4 linked regions of the Homo sapiens genome follow. The protein of the gene in region 3 interacts with the protein of the main gene of each other region in a pairwise test. Each region holds a gene or a part of one and is shown on either strand. Other genes may lie near its edges.

What was found. Proteins that work in one complex are often made in the same cells at the same time.
Region 1: the proteins of SGSM2 (region 3) and RGMA interact in a two-hybrid assay, tested with the Homo sapiens proteins (one large-scale study listed by BioGRID and IntAct).
Region 2: the proteins of SGSM2 (region 3) and CA12 interact in a two-hybrid assay, tested with the Homo sapiens proteins (one large-scale study listed by BioGRID and IntAct).
Region 4: the proteins of SGSM2 (region 3) and AFP interact in a two-hybrid assay, tested with the Homo sapiens proteins (one large-scale study listed by BioGRID and IntAct).

What each region holds. Positions count from the first base shown.
Region 1 is NC_000015.10:93,085,634-93,090,968, reverse strand, and holds the start of RGMA (repulsive guidance molecule A isoform 3 precursor), read left to right. Parts: upstream 1-1,757; 5' UTR 1,758-2,036; coding exon 2,037-2,050; intron 2,051-2,445; exon of another isoform or gene 2,446-2,688; intron 2,689-5,335.
Region 2 is NC_000015.10:63,325,569-63,330,288, reverse strand, and holds part of CA12 (carbonic anhydrase 12 isoform 1 precursor), read left to right. Parts: intron 1-2,158; coding exon 2,159-2,191; intron 2,192-3,055; coding exon 3,056-3,140; intron 3,141-3,931; coding exon 3,932-4,004; 3' UTR 4,005-4,720. UniProt on the Homo sapiens protein: Reversible hydration of carbon dioxide.
Region 3 is NC_000017.11:2,343,376-2,348,475, forward strand, and holds part of SGSM2 (small G protein signaling modulator 2), read left to right. Parts: intron 1-169; coding exon 170-245; intron 246-1,147; coding exon of another isoform or gene 1,148-1,285; intron 1,286-5,100.
Region 4 is NC_000004.12:73,442,279-73,446,998, forward strand, and holds part of AFP (alpha-fetoprotein isoform 1 precursor), read left to right. Parts: intron 1-17; coding exon 18-150; intron 151-1,068; coding exon 1,069-1,166; intron 1,167-2,714; coding exon 2,715-2,844; intron 2,845-4,720. UniProt on the Homo sapiens protein: Binds copper, nickel, and fatty acids as well as, and bilirubin less well than, serum albumin. Only a small percentage (less than 2%) of the human AFP shows estrogen-binding properties.

The DNA.
Region 1 (5,335 bases), on a different chromosome or scaffold from region 3:
CATTTTAAAAAGACACGTTTCCACTTACAGACCTTTTAAAAATGCCAGGCAATTTGGAAGAACAGTAAGAAATCTACTATCTGCGTGACAGTCATTCAGAGATTCTTGTAGTGTGCCAGGCACCATATTAAGTGCTAGGAATGCAATGATGACTCCAAGGAGTCCTGGTTCCTGCCCTCATGATGCTTATGGTACGGTGGGAGAGGCCAACATGTAGGGAAAGGTCACTCTAATGAGCGCCTAATTACCGAGTGAGCTCAGTGTTAGGAAGGAAAGGCACGGATGTGAGGACTCCCTAGAGGGTGGGGAAGATGTTGGAGCTGAGCTATGAAAGATGAAGAAATTGGTTATTCACTGAATGTCAGGGCACAGAATGTCAGGGCAGGAAGACCACACACACACACACACACACACACACACACACACACACACACACCCTACTATTCATAGATGAGGAAACTGAGGCCCAGCAGAGCTAGATGACTTGCCGAAGGTCAGAGCTAATTCTAGAAACCCATCCCCAATCCCTTCCTGCTAAACCACTTAATTTTATTTATATCCCAGCTATAGATTATACAAATACACTTGACAAATAAAACGGAGAATATTGAGTTAAAACCACATCTCTGAAGACCACACGCATAAATAACGATCGTGTTTTAATGCGGACGATACCTTTTCATTTTGCAAATCCAGAGTTCTCATCATATCAAAATTCAAGACAGTTTGTTCTGTAAGAAGGGGAAGGTCATAACCCTGTCTAGAATGTACTGGCAAATCTCTCTAACCGTGCAGTGCTAATTTGGGCCTGAGCTGTGTAACCAGACCGACTTCACGCTCCAGCTGGGGTTTCAGATCCACACATGGCGATTGGGTGGCTCTTTGCTGTTTCACAGCAAGGGTCCTTCCCTGGGCTCCCGGAGCCTCTGGGGATTTACTGCTCCCGACGTGGCCGTGTTCAAGCCACTGTGTGCATGCGCTTAATGTTGAAAACATTCTTTTGAAAAGCCCAGGAGATTCCACTCGCAATCTGTGCGTGTGCATGTAAAAGCGCAGAGACTGGAAAGAACCGCGGCAGAGCACACCCTGACCGAAGGTTACCGCGGGGGAGCCGCGGCCGTGGGAGAGCCGCGGCCGTGGGAGGGAGTGCGATACGGTCTTTTCACTCTAGACACTCCTGAGTTATGTACAATTCTACGCAAGAATGTATGCGTGTGTTAGCATGTAATACATATGTATTAGTTTTTTCAGGAAGATTCTTAAACAACAACAAAATCTCTATAGAACAAAGGTGCGTCTCCGCAGAGCGCAACAGCATTTGTCTTGGATGTAACCGCCTTCTCCAGAAATCTCAGAGGAACTCCCCTCGACCACCGCCTAACTGAAGGACACCGTGCGCTCCACCGCAACCCTGCGGGCGATTCGGAAAGTTGGAGGCGCCCCGGGGAGTCGCCGCACTTGCCGCCCGCGCCCCCTAACCTGAGCATTCAAGGAGTCTTGACTTGGCCGCTGGCGCACTCCGCACCCACCCAGCCGGTGCTGATGCGGGAGGGTGGGGCCGCGGCGGGGCGGGGCAACGCGAGCCCGCACCCCGCTCCTCCCCGCCCCTCCCTGCCGGCCCCGCCCGCGCGCGCCCCCCGCCCGCGGCCCGGGCGCCCGGCCCGCCCCCTCCCCTCGGCGCGCAAACGAACCTCGCGACGCCGCGCTCGGCGGCGGGCGGGGGCCGGGCGAGGGAGGGGGCTGGTCCCGGCCGCCCCACTCTGCAGTTGTCTCCCGAGCGCTGGCTGCGCCGCCCGAGCCGCTGGGCCGGGGAAGCACTGGCCGTTCGCTCCCGGGCCGGCTCCGCCAGGCGCTCGCAGGCATGCAGCCCGGGAGCAGGAGGCGCTCCCCGGGCCGCTGCTGAGCCGGCCGGGGCGGCGGGGACCAGCGCCAGCGGAGCCCCTCCCACCTTGCCCCGGGGCAGACGAGCGGCGCCCCGACACCCCCTCTTCTCCCGCAGCCCCGCCAGCGCCACCCCCCGCGGGCCGCAGGGGCTCATGCAGCCGCCAAGGTAAGCGCGGGTCGGGAGCCGGGCAGACCCGGCTCTGACATCTCCGAGGCGCCGCCGACACATGCCGGGGCCACGGCGCTGCTTTGGTCTTCCTTAGCCCCGCGTCTCATCTTGCTCCCATCTTGCCCACATTTGGAGCTTTGCTGCGCCTCTATCGCTTTAGCTGTTGGCAGCAGGAAAGTTTTTGTGGTTTGGTGTTTGTTCTTTTTTCCTAAAATACTCTCCCCCGGGCAGCCGCCAGCGCGCGTGGTTGGGCAGACCCGGCACACGTCCCTTACACCGTGTGCGGGCTGGGAGCTCCTTCCCTCAGCCCGGCTCGCGGAGCCCCGGACGGAGCCGGCCACCCGACTGTCCCGCCGTGAACCCCCATTGGCCCGCGCCGCCCGGGCCCCCGCCTCCCGCTCGACGCCCGGCTGCGGAGCTGCCTGGCCATCTCCTGCCCTCGGGGATGTCGGCGCAGTGCACCGCGTGGGCTCGCGTCCCGGCGGCCCTTTGCCTCGGCGCGCCGGCGTACGGGAAGGTGCGGACCTTGGATTGAGGGCCGAGGATGCCCATTGCCAAGCCGCCCCGGCTTTCCTAAGTGGACGGGAGGGCACGGCGACGATTCAGCGCCGGCTCGCGCCGCAGCTCAACCCAGGGTACAAGCCCGGGCATGGGGGACAGGTGTATTCAATGGGAGGGCGGGTGTGGGGGACGCTCGGGTGCAATTCGGGATTGCGTCTTATTAATGTAATTGTATTAGACTTGCTCGGAGGTAGAATCAGTTCTCCCAAATTGAGATTTCTAATGGGAGCCTGTGAGCTGCTATTATGTGGTGTGGTTTTGGGAGGTGTTGGGTTGTATTTATTTTATAAATTGGGTGTCTCGCGGGCGGAGTAGGGGAAGTAGCGCCATCTAGCGGAAGTGGTGAGCTGTGCATTCCTCTTAGGCTGCGAAGTTGTTGGGTGTTCTCAAAGTAGTCTCCCGCACAAGGTGGAGAGGCGGGAACCAGCCCTCGCCTCCAGGAAGGAGGCTACAGAAGCTCTCTGAGTATCGACGGTACCAGGGAGAACCCCGACCTCCCATGCTCAGCACATTGAGCTCAGGGGACGAAATTGCGGGTCGTGTTGAGTGGCATGCTGTCACCTAAAGGAGCTCCATCACCTTCTCTGTTTGGTTTTAGACTCTTCCAGCAAAAACGTAATATAAAATGTTAACTGCTGTAAGAAGATGCCCCTTCCGCAGGTATCTGGTGCAGAGATCTTGAAAACCAATGCACAAACCTCTGTCTTCTCCTGTGCATCACAAACGGGTGATTTCTTGGGTGGATTTTGAGCCATGACCCCTAGAAAAGAGAGTAACTGTGCTCCGAAGGGCAACAGGAGGAGAACTGGGAGAGGGCCTCCTGCCCATTTGTGCAGGAACAGAATAGTGTACCCAAACTGGGTTTTGTGGTTTTTTTTTTTTTTTTTTTTGCACATACAAAGAAGGGGTTTCTTGCTGTTACCACAGCAAGTGACAAGCAAGCCCCCTTTACAGGGACATGATCTCCAATTAACAACTGGGGCAGACGTGGCTGGATGGCAAGTTCTGCAGACAAAGGCTCTGGGTGGGGCACCCACACATCCAGGCGGGCTCCACGTTCTCTGTGGCTGGTTTTTGCTGCCACCTTCCAGGCCAGATAATATATTAGCAGTGAGCTGGGCTCACCCGGTTCTGAAGGGCACCCTGGCCCCTTGTAGAGCAGTGTAGTGGTCTACTGTAGTACCCCCTTGAGACTCTCTGGGCTGTGCTGGTAGTGAAAGAGGTCTTAGCCTCCTTTTTTCAAGTACCCTGCTTCCATTATTTCCCTCCCAGGTGTCAGACAGTTGCTTACATTCTCCAATAGACATATGAAATGGTGGGTGGCTGGTCTGCCCCGTCATGCTGTCTCAAACTGTGTCTCCATTGGTAGGTATTTATGTCATCATGAGACTTGTGACAGACGAGGTCTTAGAATAGCTTGGCATCTCATTCAAGGAGGGCACCTTTGACTTTTGCTAAGAAACCTCTGCCTGCTTTCTCTTTTTACAAACCTCCTCCAAGGAATAACTTGCTGCTTCCCAGTGTATGTAATAATAGACAATAAAGGCACAAGAATCTCCTTTTTAATACAATCCCTTGCTCTTCAGCAGCCCTGTGAGAAGCCAAGCCCAAGAATTCTTAGACGAGCAGTTGCAAAATGAAATAAATAGGGACTGAGCATCCCTGACACTGGGACAGGGAGTTTTTCAGCCATTCTTCCAGGGATGCTTGCTGCTCCCAGGAAGCAGGCAGGAATGGGTGCTGGTATTTTCAGTTTCTCAGAAGAAACTGATGGCCAGAAAGCAGAAGGGATATGGCCAGTGTTCTGTGAGTCTAAAGTGCGTTTTTCCCCCTACAACCTTGCTACCAAATGAATTAAGTTCTAGCGCTTGTTTTTACCAAGTATGGTTGCAAAATTTGTTCCTGCCTTGAAGCATGCAGTATAGACATGAAAGAAGGCACGGTCACCGATCCATCAAGAAGCCTGCCATCCAGGGAAAGAGGCAGGAAGTATCCAAGTGCAATTGAGCAAAAACATAGAAGGATTATCTGAAAGCAGCGCAGGCAAATTGGAATCTGTTAGTTCTGTGAAACGAAATGACACTACTCCTTACAGGTAATTATTCTAGAACTTGACTTATAACATCCCAAAGGTAAGTTTAGTTAACTTTTAAGTGTCTGTGGTGTTCCTGTGGCTCTTTTAGGGAATGGCTTTGCTTCCATTATGTAGCCATTCCACAAACTTAACTGAACATAAATTTAACCTGAAGAAGGGAAGCTCCAGGTTTCCCCACCTGTTTGGTATCCAGCCTATCCAAAAGACAGGCTCCTCTTTTTCTTATTTTGAGCAAATGACTGCTCAGTTTCAGCCTCTCTTCTCTTAGCAACAGAGCTATAAAGGAGCAATGAATAGGGCAGTGGAAAAAATTAAGGATTGCCTTACCCAAGTATGCATACAAGGCCAGGCAGAAGTCAGTTTCCTTGGTGACAGATGAACAAATGAACTCTATTGAAAGGATACCCAGTTTCTTAGCCAGGTCCGTCCTGTGAGTAGAAGTGCTGTATCATGTTAGAACCCAGGGGTCAGGAGGCAAGAATGCCTAGTGAGGTGTGAAACTTTACAATTCTTAGGGCAGGAAGAAGAAGGAATTTTAAAAGTAGGGCAGAAATTGACAAAATAAATGCAAATGTCTTTTATAACCTCATATAAAAAGTTTTAAGTCACTGGTAACTGACTAACAT
Region 2 (4,720 bases), on a different chromosome or scaffold from region 3:
TTCCACTGTGCAGAGGCCACAGGCCCTGCAGGAAACAGAGCTTGTGCTGTACAAACACTGGAAGCTCCCTCCAGGTGGAGACTCATGTCCTCAGTACCTCCCCAAGCCACAGGCTGGTCCTTGTGTTCAGGTTACACGAAGAGGCCTGGGGCAGGGAGTCTGGCCAGTGGAGCCACTCTGCCACTTGGGAGGTCATGAGCAGCTGGTGGTGGTGAGCAGAGTAGGGAGAATAGGCTTCCCTGTCCTTGGGGACAGCTCTTCTCCCTGCCTGCTCTGCTAACCCTCACAGCAGCCCGGTGCCACCTGGGGAAGCCAGACCAGGAACCCCCAGGGCCCAGCCTTGGACCAGGGAGGCTCTGCAGGTTCAATGTGAGATTGCAGAAAAAGACAATCGGAAAAGCACACGGCTGATGGCTCCTGGGGAATCAGCTAGACTTGGGCCATACGACAGGAGAAGGGGCAGTGAGCAAAACCTCACCCTGCAGCCTCAGATCTGGTTCCCCAGGCTGTTAAGGGCCCCAAGGGAGAGTCCTTGGCCCCCTGCTGGCATCTTACACTTGACCAGGGCTCTCCCAGGGCCTCAGCCACCACTGTGGGTTCTATGGGCACAGGATCTTCTGTGTCAGGCTGGGTGGCCACCATCTGTACAACTGTGGCTCCCAGTGTGAGTTAGAACAAATACCCCTTCTTCCTCCAAGACACACACACATGCTAGAAGTTTCCATTGAGATGAGAAAACCACCAGACAGAAGGGTACCTGTAAATCTACACTTTCTTTAGACAAAGGACCTGATTAGGAGAATGGGGAATGGCTGTGGGAACCTTGGAAAAAACAGGCTGAGGGTTTTCAGGGGAGACTTCATGACTGGGATCCTCTGCTCACTCAAGACAATGGATTCTCATGTGATTTTCCCCCCAGGAGGTGGCTAGTAGGCTGACTGTGAGACTTAGGTAGCTGGGCACGGGTTCAGCCACACTGAGGACTTCTCTCTCACCTTATTTATCCTCAACAGTAACTTGCTGGTTGAAGCCGTAATACCCTGGTTCCATGGAGCAGAGAAGTGGGGCTGATGTGGTGAAGGCGTTTGTCCAGGAGGGACAAAGCAAAAATAGAACCAAACCATGATGACAAGCTGATGGGCTGGGGGAGAAGTCTGGTGATGGATTCCTTGCTTAGGAAGTGAGGCAGGTACCAGGGACATGGACAGGAGCCTGCCCAAGCAGGCTTTGATCCCTACCTTTCTTCATCTTTCCTCTTTGGCCATGTTGTATTAAAAACTGAAATCTTGGCTGGGCGCCGTGGCTCACACCTGTAATCCCCATAGTTTGGGAGGCCGAGGCAGGTGGATCACTTGAGATCAGGAGTTCGAGACCAGCCTGGTCAACATGGCAAAACCCCATCTCTACTAAAAATACAAAAATTAGCCAAGCGTTGTGGTGCACGCCTGCAGTCCCAGCTGCTCGGGAGGCTGAGGCATGAGAATTGCTTGAACCCAGGAGGTGGAGGTTGCAGTGAGCCAAGATTGTGCCACTGCACTCCAGCATGTGTGACAGAGCGAGACTCTGTCTCAAAAAAAACACAAACAAACAAACAAACAAAAACTCAAGTGAAGTCTTGCCCTAGCCAGGAAACTGTTGTGATAAAGGAGCATCGGGGCCGGGCGCAGGGGCTCACGCCTATAATCCCAACACTTTGGAAGGCCAAGGCAGGTGGATAATGAGGTCAGGAGTTCAAGACCAGCCTGGCCAAGATGGTGAAACCCTGTCTCTACTAAAAATCCAAAAATTAGCTGGGTGTGGTGGCAGGTGCTTGTAATCCCAGCTACTTGGGAGACTGAGGCAGAGAATTGCTTGAACCCAGGAGGCGGAGGTTGAAGTGAGCCAAGATCGCACCACTGCATTCCAGCCTGGGCGGCAGAGCGAGATTCCATCTCAAAAAAAAAAAAAAAAGGAGCATCGGAAGGAGGGATTGCAGTATGAATTCCCTAGATGGGCAATTTCCTGTACTTCATCAGGCAATCCCTGAGCCAAGGGTGGACATCCCTAGAGGTCTGTCAGCCTAAGACCAAACAAATGGTAGAGCGTCTCTCAACACGCTGCTCAAATCCAGTGTGGTTTGACTCTAGAGTAACCTCGTCTTTTCCTCTCCCCTTTTAAGTGCAAGTCTGTACTGCGGCAGGACTGAGTCTGGGTATGTGGCTGGGCAGCCAGCCGTGCATGCTGCAGCTGGGTGATCACTGTGATTCTTGGTGTGATCCAAGCCCGTCCTCTCTGCTTCTCTGTACTATTGCTCTGGCTCCTGGCCCTCTCCTTGCTATGGGTCTTACCCTCAAGTCGCTCTGTGATTCAAAGATGAACTGCCAATCAAATGTTCCTCTAATGAAAGATCCAATCACTCTACAGCATGTGTGTATTCAAAGAACCTATCTAAGACTTTCTTTTGGTCATGGTGGGAGGCTGTTGCTGAAAACATACCAGAGCCCATTGTGGAGGTCAGCTGACAGGCCGCATGACCTTGGCAATGGACTACTGGTCATCTGGGACTGCTTAGGACTGTGCAATGGAACTTGGGGGCAAAACTGATGGAGACAGCCAATGGGCCTTAAATCCAGCAGGCAAAGACAGAGTAAGTTCTTATTTGTGTAGCCCAGGGCTTATCAAAGTGTGGTTCTTGGACCACGTGCATCAGTATCAGCTGTAAGTATTTGGCAAAATGCAGATTCCCGGGCCCTGCACCAAACAGATTGACTTTGAATCTCTGGGGGTTGGGCTAAAAAAAAAAAAAAAACCCTACATTTTAAACAAGCTCTTCAGATGACCCTTGTGTAAGTTTGAGAGCATCTGCTGGAAAACCACTAGAATTTGCAAACGGCCACCTCAAAATACTCCAGCCAGTCCCACTAAGCCAAAGACCAGAATCTGAGAACAGGGATGGGGAAATTATTCCTTTCTGTGGATGATTATGCAGCTGGGCCATGATTTCACACCCGGGGGCCATGGGCTAAGATGGAGGGGAAGGAAGGAATGTAATGTGTGCCCTCTACCTCTTCACCAGGCATCATCCTCTCACTGGCCCTGGCTGGCATTCTTGGCATCTGTATTGTGGTGGTGGTGTCCATTTGGCTTTTCAGAAGGAAGAGGTGAGCTGGTTTGGGTCCAAAATGGGAATGGACAGCTATGTGTCCATGATGATTAGTCTGCCTGGGAAGGCAGCTTTGTGGCATGAAGAGCCGCAGTCACCTGGACCACCACTTACCCTAGGAGGGCCGTCCCCAAAGCACCCGTGCCCTGGCCTCCTTTGCATGAGACGCACATGTGACCCTGGTCGTTCAAAGGGTTCAGGGGTCACTGTGCTCAGATTTGGAAGCGTGTGTGCCTTGCTTGCTGCTATTGCATGGCCTTGGACGAGTCTCTTGACTTGGGGCTTGTGCCTGAAGTTAAGCAGCCAGGCTGTCTTCTTATCAAGATCTTTACATATGCTTTTTGGTCTATGAATTCAAAAAGAAAGATGAAGGAAAACCTGATCTCTCACTCACATTAACTCTTCATGCCCTTTGTCCATGTTTTTATTGTGACATTTGGCTTTTCCTAAAACCTAATTTATTTGGGGGGGGTATGAAAAATAAAAAGGTTTCTGGGAACCCTGTTATGGAATCAGAGGTTTGAAGAGGGGGGTGACAACGAGACCTCTTTCAAAATATAGGTCTACTACTGTTAGGTGTGAAAGAGAACAGTTGGAAAACGAACAAGTTCTGTTTTTGTTAAAGCTTTATTTGGTGACACTCCCTCCCAAGACCAACAGAATTGGGGAAAGGTCCCAAAGAGAGGAATCCAACTTTTAAAAACGGCCTCATTCCATACCTGAGTCAGGCTGCTCTCTGGCTCGCTCGCTCTCCTCTCTAACAAGAGTTATGTGTTCTTTCTGTTCTAGTATCAAAAAAGGTGATAACAAGGGAGTCATTTACAAGCCAGCCACCAAGATGGAGACTGAGGCCCACGCTTGAGGTCCCCGGAGCTCCCGGGCACATCCAGGAAGGACCTTGCTTTGGACCCTACACACTTCGGCTCTCTGGACACTTGCGACACCTCAAGGTGTTCTCTGTAGCTCAATCTGCAAACATGCCAGGCCTCAGGGATCCTCTGCTGGGTGCCTCCTTGCCTTGGGACCATGGCCACCCCAGAGCCATCCGATCGATGGATGGGATGCACTCTCAGACCAAGCAGCAGGAATTCAAAGCTGCTTGCTGTAACTGTGTGAGATTGTGAAGTGGTCTGAATTCTGGAATCACAAACCAAGCCATGCTGGTGGGCCATTAATGGTTGGAAAACACTTTCATCCGGGGCTTTGCCAGAGCGTGCTTTCAAGTGTCCTGGAAATTCTGCTGCTTCTCCAAGCTTTCAGACAAGAATGTGCACTCTCTGCTTAGGTTTTGCTTGGGAAACTCAACTTCTTTCCTCTGGAGACGGGGCATCTCCCTCTGATTTCCTTCTGCTATGACAAAACCTTTAATCTGCACCTTACAACTCGGGGACAAATGGGGACAGGAAGGATCAAGTTGTAGAGAGAAAAAGAAAACAAGAGATATACATTGTGATATATTAGGGACACTTTCACAGTCCTGTCCTCTGGATCACAGACACTGCACAGACCTTAGGGAATGGCAGGTTCAAGTTCCACTTCTTGGTGGGGATGAGAAGGGAGAGAGAGCTAGAGGGACAA
Region 3 (5,100 bases):
AGACTGTGCTGAAGAAACTTTGCTTCCCCACACCTTTCATCCCTGTCATCTCTGCAAGTGTCTGAAAGTGCCCTTCAGACCAGAAGGGCGGAACCAAACTATTTATTTGCCCAGAGGTCTTTGATAAGGGAAAATAATAAAAGCAGTGATGCTGTCCATGTGTCCGCAGGTGAAGCAAATCATGGAGGAGGCTGTCACCAGGAAGTTTGTGCATGAAGACAGCAGCCACATCATTGCTTTATGTGGTGAGTGAGTGACTGAAGGATGATGGGAGGTCGGTCTAGAGCCGAGGACACTGGCCTGGGGCCAGGAAAAGATGAGTCCTCAGGTGCAGTAGCTCTCAAATCTGGCTGCAAGTCCAAATCAACCTGGAAGCTTTTGAAATCCTCTTTGGCCCCATTTGCAGACCTACTAAATCAGGTTCTTCAGGGGTCAAGAATCTGCGTATTTTTTGTTCCCCAGGATAGTAATTCTCACATTTTAGCATGTATCAGAGTCACCTGAAGGGCTTGGTAGAACACAGATTTCTGGGTCCCAACCCTGGAGTTTCTGATTCTAGTAGGTCTGGGGACCCCACTTTGAGAGCCGCTGCCCTAGGTCATTTGAGTTCAGGAACCAGTGCTCTGACTGATTTTGATTTTGACTTCAGGGAGGGGTTTGTGCTTTTCGGATGCTCTGTGCCACTTTCCCTTTGTTTCCCACCCGTGTTGCTCCATGATCCTAACCCCAAGCCCTTGACTGGATGCAAAGGAGCCTGAGCGTGGGCTAGGAGAGGTGGCTAAGGCTTCCAGCCTCAGAAGGGACTCTCTCATCACCTCCTTCTCAGTGTGGCCAAGCCTTCCAGCCCCAGAAAGGAGAGAGTCGCTTATAAACCATTTCCGCCTCCTCAGCCTGAAGACTTTTGCTTTGTAGGAGCAAGCCTATCCCTACGCACAGACTCTTCTTGGATTTCTAGGAATTTCAGCTTCCTCTCAACCCCCCATCTGAAGGGACAGGGAACCATTCACCTTCTCTGTGTTGTATTCCTTGGCCTCTGAGATTGGTGTTGGGGTTTGTGGAGGGAAAATAATGAAAGAACAGATAAGGGAAGGGATGCTTTGGACGGTAGTGTGGCACAGCAGATACAGCTGCCCTTCCCCTCATCCAGCAGCAGATCCCCACCAAGGGCTCACCAGGTGCCAGACACCGTTCACCGTGCAAGGAAATGGCAGTGACAAGATGGACAGAGTCTCTGCCGCAGGAGCTTACATTCTGTTGGGGAGACAGACAGGAAACAAATGCGCAAGTAAATATGTCATCCAATAACTTGGCATGTGATAAGAGCTAGGAAGAAAAAACATGTGGGAGGGCAGTCGGAGAGGCAGCCTCTGAGCAGAGTCTGAGTGACAGACTGGGGTTTGAATCCTGGCGTCCTGCCTTTTAAGTCGTCTTGGACAAGTTTCTTAACTTCTCTCACCCTCAGTTTGCTCCTCTAAAAACAGACTGATGATTCCCACCTCAAGGAACTTTCGTGGGGATTGAGATGATGTGTGTAAATGTTCATTCGTTCGTAGCATTGTAAGCACTCAAAGAATATTCGTCTCTCCTCCTTTGGCTGTTGAGGCTGAAGGTAGGTTTGTAGGACTTGAGTTCATACCATGTCCGTTTGGGAAGGTTTCCCCAGTTCTTTGAGATGGTGGAATAATGATTCCTAGGTTTACAAGACACAGCCTGACCTCAGTTTTTCTCAGCAGAACCTATGCTCTGGAAAAAAAAAAGGCATGCCAGTATTATGATAAGCAACTTTGAAGAGTATTAGAATTCTCGGCCGGGCACAGTGGCTCACGCCTGTAATCCCAGCACTTTGGGAGGTGAGGCAGGTGGATCACCTGAGGTCAGGAGTTCGAGACCAGCCTGGCCAACTTGGTGAAACCCCGTCTCTACTAAAAATACAAAAATTAGCAGGGCGTGGTGGCGGGCGCCTGTAATCCCAGCACTTTGGGAGGTGGAGGTGGGCGGATCACGAGGTCAGGAGATCGAGACCATCCTGGCTAACACGGTGAAACCCCGTCTCTACTAAAAATACAAAAAATTAGCCAGGCGTGGTGGCGGGCGCCTGTAGTCCCAGCTACTCAGGAGGCTGAGGCAGGAGAATGGCGTGAACCCGGGAGGCGGAGCTTGCAGTGAGCCAAGATCGCGCCACTGCACTCCAGCCTGGGTGACAGAGCGAGACTCTGTCTCAAAAAAAAAAAAAAAAAAAAATTCCTACTTTTTAAATACTGACAGCTAATTCCCATTTAAAAAAAAATTGTGTGGGCCACACAAAAGACATCTGCCAGCCTCTGCCAGTGTGCAGCCTCTGTTTTGGGTTCGGTACAGTCACGGAGAACAGGAGCAGGAGAGGTTCCAACAGTATCGGGCTAAGTCAGGCCAGGGTATCTCAGGGCCTACAGACAGAGAAATCCTTATGCTTTGTCAAAATTGGTGCTCAGTGGTGAGCTAAATCCCAATTTGGGCTGAAACTGAGGCTCGTTGAAAGCATTGATTATCAACCTTTTTCCTCTGCCTGCAAAGCAGCTTCCTTGCATTGCATGGTGGAATCACGAGAGACTCTTGCGGGGGACGGGGAGGGAAGACTAGCAAGGTATGGATCAAAAACACCACCCCTCTCTGCCTTTTTGGAGATTCTGATGTGCCAGTCTCCCTCAGTCCCTGGAAAAATGCTCTGAAATGCATTTTTAGTCTGAAGTTGATCCAGACTTAAACTGTGCCTTGCTACTGTCCTAGCCACGTCCGAATTCAGCTTTGTTGTGGGAGAAATGGGAGTATAGAGAACGTGCTGAGAGGTCAAGAGCAGAGTGAAGTCTGTGGAGACTGGATTACCAGCCTAGCGACACCACGGTCCCTAGTTTCAAGGGACCCTTGTGTACTGGGCCCCTCAACTCCACACCGACCCATGGTTCTTGGCAGAGGAGGGTTGGGGGTGACTGAGGAGAGCCAGGCCTAGGCAATACAAGCTTCTCTGAGCTTCTTAGAATGCAGACATTTAAACAGAAAACACAGAGCCTTCCTGGAGAGCCTTCCTGAAGAATCACTGTGTCAAGACCTGACCATGGGCAAACCCAGGAAAGTTTGCAGCCAGATCCCCATTCCTGTTACCCAACGGGAGGGGCAAGACTCCTAGGACTGGCTAGAAAATTGCTTTGTTGAGTGTTTGCTGTGGTTGTTCCTAAACCTGTCTGTCCAGAAGCTGGACATGCAGTAGGCCCCTGCGAGTAGAAACTTTCCTTGTGTGGAAGTTTTCGCTGGCAAACCAGTCTGGCGGCAGCAGGGGGGTGGGTGGGGTTCTCTGTGTGCTGTTCCCAGGCCCGAGGATCAGAACCTATGTAACTGCCACCTCCGTGCCAGTGGAGGGTGGCGCTAGGAGAATGGACTCAAAACTACCACTATGGGGCCAGGCATGGTGACTCACACCTGCAATCCCAGTGCTCTGGGAGGCTGAGGCGGGAGGATCCCTTGAGACCAGAAGCTTGAGACCAGCCTGGGCAATATTACAGGATGCAGTCTCTACAAAAAAATAAATAACTCGCTGGGCATGGTGGTGCACGCCTGTAGTCCCAGCTACTCCAGAGGCTGAGGTAGGAGGATCACTTGAGCCCGGGAGGTTGAGGCTGCAGTGAGCTATGATTGCACCACTGCCCTCCAGCTTGGGCAACAGAGAGAGAGAGAGACCCTGTCTCGTTTGTTTGTTTATTTATTTATTTATTTAGAGACGGAGTCTCACTCTGCTGCCCAGGCTGGAGTTCTGTGGTGCTATCTCAGCTCACTGCAACCTCCGCCTCTCAGGTTCAAGCAATTCTCCTGCCTCAGCCTCCTGAGTAGCTGGGATTACAGGTGCCTGCCACCACACCTAGCTAATTTTTGTATTTTTAGTAGAGACAGGGGTTTCACCATGTTGGCCAGGCTGGTCTCGAACTCCTGACCTCAGGTGATCTGCCCACCTTGGCCTCCCAAAGTGCTGGGATTACAGGTGTGAACCATCACACCCGGCCTCATTTTTTTTTTTTTTTTTTAAACAAAATCCAAAAACTACCACTGTTGGGGAGAGGTCTTTGATATATCCTTTTATCCTTTTTATCTTAAAACATCACATCAAGTTTACATTTTTCTCTATCATATGGTTTTTGGATTTTTTTTCATTTTAATATAAAGACTTACTGTTGAATTAAAGTATAGGCTGGTATCTCCTGTCGCCCCCTCCCCTGGAGGGGAAGGTGCTTTTGTTTTTTCTTTTTTTTTTTTTCCAGATGAGGTCTTGCTATGTTGCCAAGATTGGTCTCAAACTCGTGGGCTCCAGGTATGCTCCTGCCTTGGCATCCCAAGTAACTGGGATTACAGGTGCATACCACCGCCCGAGGTCCATAGTGTTTTATTTACCCTATTCCGATTGGGCACTGAGTTTGCATTTTAACCTTTGGCTGGTAGAGCAGGTTTCAGAGGCTCACAGAGAGGCTTCTGGCCAGGCAGAGCAGGTTCTCAGGCCAATCATATCTCCCAGGACCTCAGCCTCCCCACCCCCCAGGGATTGGGGCAGACACCAGCCTGCCTCCTCAGTCACCAGATTCCCTGCCCTGCTGTGTGCAAGTGGGTCAACATGAGGGTTGCTTCAGACTGAGGATGAGCTGTAATTCGAGAAGGGTGGAATCTGTGGAGCCGGGAATAACATCAGGCTTTATTAACCAGCTCCCTGTTGCTAGGCAGCTTTCATTAGCCAGGAAGGTCTGCCCTGCAGTGAGCTCCTTCAGGGAATGGCAAGGAGATGCTAATAAGCTGGGAGAGAAGCCGGTGCTAGGGAAGGCTTGCCTCTCCCCTGGGATATTGCAGCCAGCGATATTTCAGCACATTCTGAGATTTGGACTCCAGGCAGTCTTCAGCCTGTCTCTTTTCAGTAAAAGGGATTCCTGGAGGCTGAGGTGGGAGGATCCCTTGCAGGAGTTCGAGACCAGCCTGAGCAAAAAAGACCCCATCGCCACAAAAAGGAGGAGCGGGTTCCTCCTCCTTCCCACCCACAGGGAATGAATAGCTCATTCTCTTGCTATCTAACTCGTGCCTTCCATCTAG
Region 4 (4,720 bases), on a different chromosome or scaffold from region 3:
TCTATTTTATTTCACAGATTCATTTATGAGATAGCAAGAAGGCATCCCTTCCTGTATGCACCTACAATTCTTCTTTGGGCTGCTCGCTATGACAAAATAATTCCATCTTGCTGCAAAGCTGAAAATGCAGTTGAATGCTTCCAAACAAAGGTATCATATTTGCGTGGATATCTGAACCAGTACTGTAGTCTATGACTCATTAAAACAAAACAAAGTTAAAAATGAAAACGTGCTTAATTGTGGAGAGTATCGTTTTTGGAATAGAGAAATAGTTCAGCAGTCTGATATTCTTCGAGTGAACAAAACTGGATTTGCTGGTTTTTATTATCTATTCATTAAGTCAACAATAATTTTATTATTAAGGAAGTGAGTTTGATGGGATAAAGAAGGAAAGACAGACAGACAGAAAGAGAGAAAGAGAGGGTGCTATAAATGGGAAGGAGTAAGTGAAAGAAAACGGAGAAAAGGAGGAGCAGAGGAGAGAGAAAAAATGAAGAACTATGATAAATGCTTTATACTTACTGTTTTTTTAAACCTTAGAACAAATTTGAGGTGTAAGTATTTTTGTCCTTTAACAAACTAGGAAAGAGGTTTAGAGAAGAAAATTTTTTTTAGGTTTAGAGAGGTAGAATAATATCCACCATTAACTACTTGCTACCAGCAGTCCTATAACAAAAATTTCCTGAGAACTGACTACTCTCAGTGTCAAGCCGTGATACAATCGTATTTTTTGTAACTGAGAAGACACTTAAGAAATTAGCAGGCTTCAATTTGTCTTTAAGCTGTTTAAAGGTACAGTTGTTCATTTATGATCCCCAGTATAAAAGTTATGTTTTTGTTTCAAGGTACTTTGAGTAAATTTGTCTGGCACAGATGCATATAAACTAACCCAAAAGAATAAATGAGTCAATAATATTCTGCGATAATGTATGACATTTATAATTTTTAGTAAAAAACATATTTTATGGAATTTCATTTTACCTATACTTGTTGTTTTTCTAAATATTAGAGCTTGTAAAGAAAATGTTAGTATATGCTTTCATGACATTTTGTTTCCTCTACATCTAGGCAGCAACAGTTACAAAAGAATTAAGAGAAAGCAGCTTGTTAAATCAACATGCATGTGCAGTAATGAAAAATTTTGGGACCCGAACTTTCCAAGCCATGTAAGTTCAAGTTCTATCTAGGGAAGAGGGTGAGAGCTACAGAACTACCATTTTGCAATTTGGGTTCGTTTTTTTAATTGTTGCTGTTTTAGAGAATGAAGACCCCTTTGTGACCCCTTTGATGAGGGCTAATGGGATTAGAACCATGAACTCTTAGGATCAGAAGGAAGCTAACGGATAAGTCAGTTTAACACTTACTAAAGCCTAGCTGAGATAATACATAGAAAAGACTTTTAAAGTTTATGTTATTTACCTGTTCTTTAAGACACTTAAGTTCTGGCCTGCCATCAAATTATACCTCATCACTAGACCATATTTTTCTAGCTCTTCTACAAAATAAGTCAGCCTTCACTGAGTGTCATTTAAAACTTTTGCCTTAACAAGAAATTCTTTATATTAATTGTGTTTCTTAATCTTCTATAAGGCTCTTTATAGCATTTATTGCTTCCCATAAAAATATTCCTTTGAGGCAATAATATTAGAATCTAGTGTCAGGAGAAAAGAACATTTTAAATTATATAACTTCTTTAAAGTACTCATCAACTCTTTTATGATAAAACATTTCTAGTATATGAAAATATCTGAGCTGCTAATCGAATAGTAGTAAGTATATATATTCAGAGTTTATTTGATTGCTGTTTGGTTAAATAACACGTTAAAGCATATTGTAGACAATGGAAATCTAGAATGAAGTTTTTAGTAATAGAATTAGTTCTAAAGACTGAAATTTCTTCTTGTAAGAAGTCAGATTTATGCCTTAACTACCCTCCAACTCAATTAGAAATTGAAAGATTAATTTATGACCTACTTTAAAAAAATTTATCTTAGTAATAAAATAGAAATTGAGATAGTATTATAATACCCTTATCATTTGCTATCCATAAGTGAAAGCTAAGTGGTCTAAATTTATAGAGAAGATCCATCTTTATCAGAAGCAGGAGTAACACTATTTTCTCTAGGAGCAATGGTTTTACAAAGACAACTCTTAAAATTTAATGAAATATGCAGAGGAAACCAGAATTTTTATTTCTTACTTCTTTTTTGGCCACATTACTCTCTTGGCACACTGGTATGCCTGAAATGTTTAATCTGCTCCACTTTCTTGTCCCATTTCATTGATTTGCACATACGCCTCCTTTCCTGGATTCTCAGAAGTATTTTTTACCCCAGTAAAAAATGGTTCTCATTTTCATGGAATTTTCCATTTCTTAATTGTTTATCCTTTTAAAGTTTTATGTCCACTCAATACAAATGCTCAGCATAAGGGTTGAATGGCAAAAATAATTTACCTTAATTCTTAAGACATGTTTTAGGAAAAGATAAATTATTTCTAAACCATTTGTGGGGCCAGCTCACAGTTTACAGAGCTACCACCTTGAAAGATATGGCTGGAATCAAGCCTTAAAACATGTTTCCTTTTCTTTTTAAACAACAAGGGAATTTCAGTCATTTCTCTTTGAAACTTCTACTGTAGTAATACTCTATAAATTCTATTTTATTTTGACAGATAACCAAGAAATTAATTTCTAATTTCTTTTTTTTCCCTAGAACTGTTACTAAACTGAGTCAGAAGTTTACCAAAGTTAATTTTACTGAAATCCAGAAACTAGTCCTGGATGTGGCCCATGTACATGAGCACTGTTGCAGAGGAGATGTGCTGGATTGTCTGCAGGATGGGGTGAAGAGTCTTGCTTCTTAAAATAGAAGATTTTCACTCCCTTTTCTTTCTTTTTGTCTCATTCTAAAAGGGAGAAGGTTGTTTGACTTGAATTGGTTACAGAGTATGTAAACTAGGTGACTCCTTAAATTTGCAGAATTCTCGGTAGTAAAACTTAAACCATCTTTTGTTGATCCTGGCTTTCACTTTAGCTATACCCCTTTTTGTGAAACCAAGGCTCATCTATTTCTTACTTCTAAAAAAACCGTGGGAACTTCTCAGAAGGCTTCTCCATAGTTACTTGGAGGACGGGAGGAAACTAAGGTTTAATGTATTTATTTTTTCATTCATTTATTCTTTCATTTGACAAATAAATATATATTAAATACTTTCTATCTGCTAGCCACTATGACAGACACTTGTTTTAAAAGCACAGGCTGACCTCAAGGAATTCACAGTCTGATAGGAGAGATAAGACAGTGACCTCCTTGGAGTTAGGGACTGCCTTGGTTTACTGTTATCTCCATAGCACAATGCCTGGCACATGGAAGGCATTCTATAATAGTTTGTTAAATGAACGAATGCAATAAAAATTGCACAAGTAACTGTCCTACCAGGTAAAAAGCTAGCCTTGCCAAAGACAAGTGTGAATAAAGTGGTCTCGGAGAATTAGAAAACAAAATTTAAAAAACCCAGCAACAGTTTCTTGAGTGTGCTCTAGTCAGTGGTGGTTTAAGCAGTGTGGCATTGGCTTATTTTGGCTAACCCTAGACTTCCTAGATTTTACAAGAGAGGACTGTTGACCCTCAGATTACTCTGTCTCTGTGGGCTCCATGACATACCAAAGAGATTAAAATCCAAGGAGCTTAAAAATTACTGCTCTTAGGTACTCAAATGGCTTGATAACCAGCACTGGACTATGGTTTCCAGAAGGCTGAAAGTGAAGATAAAATGCTCATTTCAGCCCATCCGATGGCAATTCAGTGAGATGCTTGAAGTAAGCAAGAAGCCAAGGCTGCAGAGGAGGCCTGAGAGTGACAGTCCCTGAGGAGCTGGGGAAGAAGTGGGAGGAGGCAGCCTGGCAGGCGACTGTACTACTTTACTTGTTTTTCTTCTAAAAATATGGCATACTAGGAAAACCAACAAGAAGTATTTTGTTTTTCTTTGAGCTCAGTTTTCCCATTTTGAACGGACAATTTTACTGTTTCTCGTTGTCATTTTTAAAAAGTTAATTTTTTCAATTTTTGGAGCTCATAACCACCCTTTTCCTTTAAAGTGGAAACATTAATTTCAGCATGATATGTAAGTTGGATTTTGATAGCTGAATAATGGGTTCTAATTATCTTTGCTGAGAATGTACAGAATTTTCAGTCCCATGACAGGTATATATGTAAGCTCTGCCTCTCTCTGGCCACTTAGGTGCATTGCCATTTTATTATCTATAGACTGCCCTCTGAAGGTCATAGTCAGTCACTGCAGTATGTTCTGATAAAGATGATTATCATTCTTACGGAATTTCTCGTGGAGCAGAAAGTTTGCTCTCCATGTTATGATAAAGATGATTATCATTCTTACGGAATTTCTCGTGGAGCAGAAAGTTTGCTCTCCATGTTATGATACCAGTTGCAAGTGTTGTTTAGGGGCAAATTTGAATGCTAATAGAAATACATATAGCAACATGCATCCTATTTTATTTGAGCACATTTCCCTCTTATTTGTAAAGGTTTTCAATTAAAATAACATAGGATTTAGCTTACAACTATGGAAAGAAGAATTGAACAAACAGGTAAGTGGAAAGGAATGAGAAAAGGCAAAAGTGGGGAGAAAGCACTAAAACGGGAGACAAGTTAAAATTTCTTTTTAATTGATAGGTCACGTTCTCACTCTATTTGCCTTT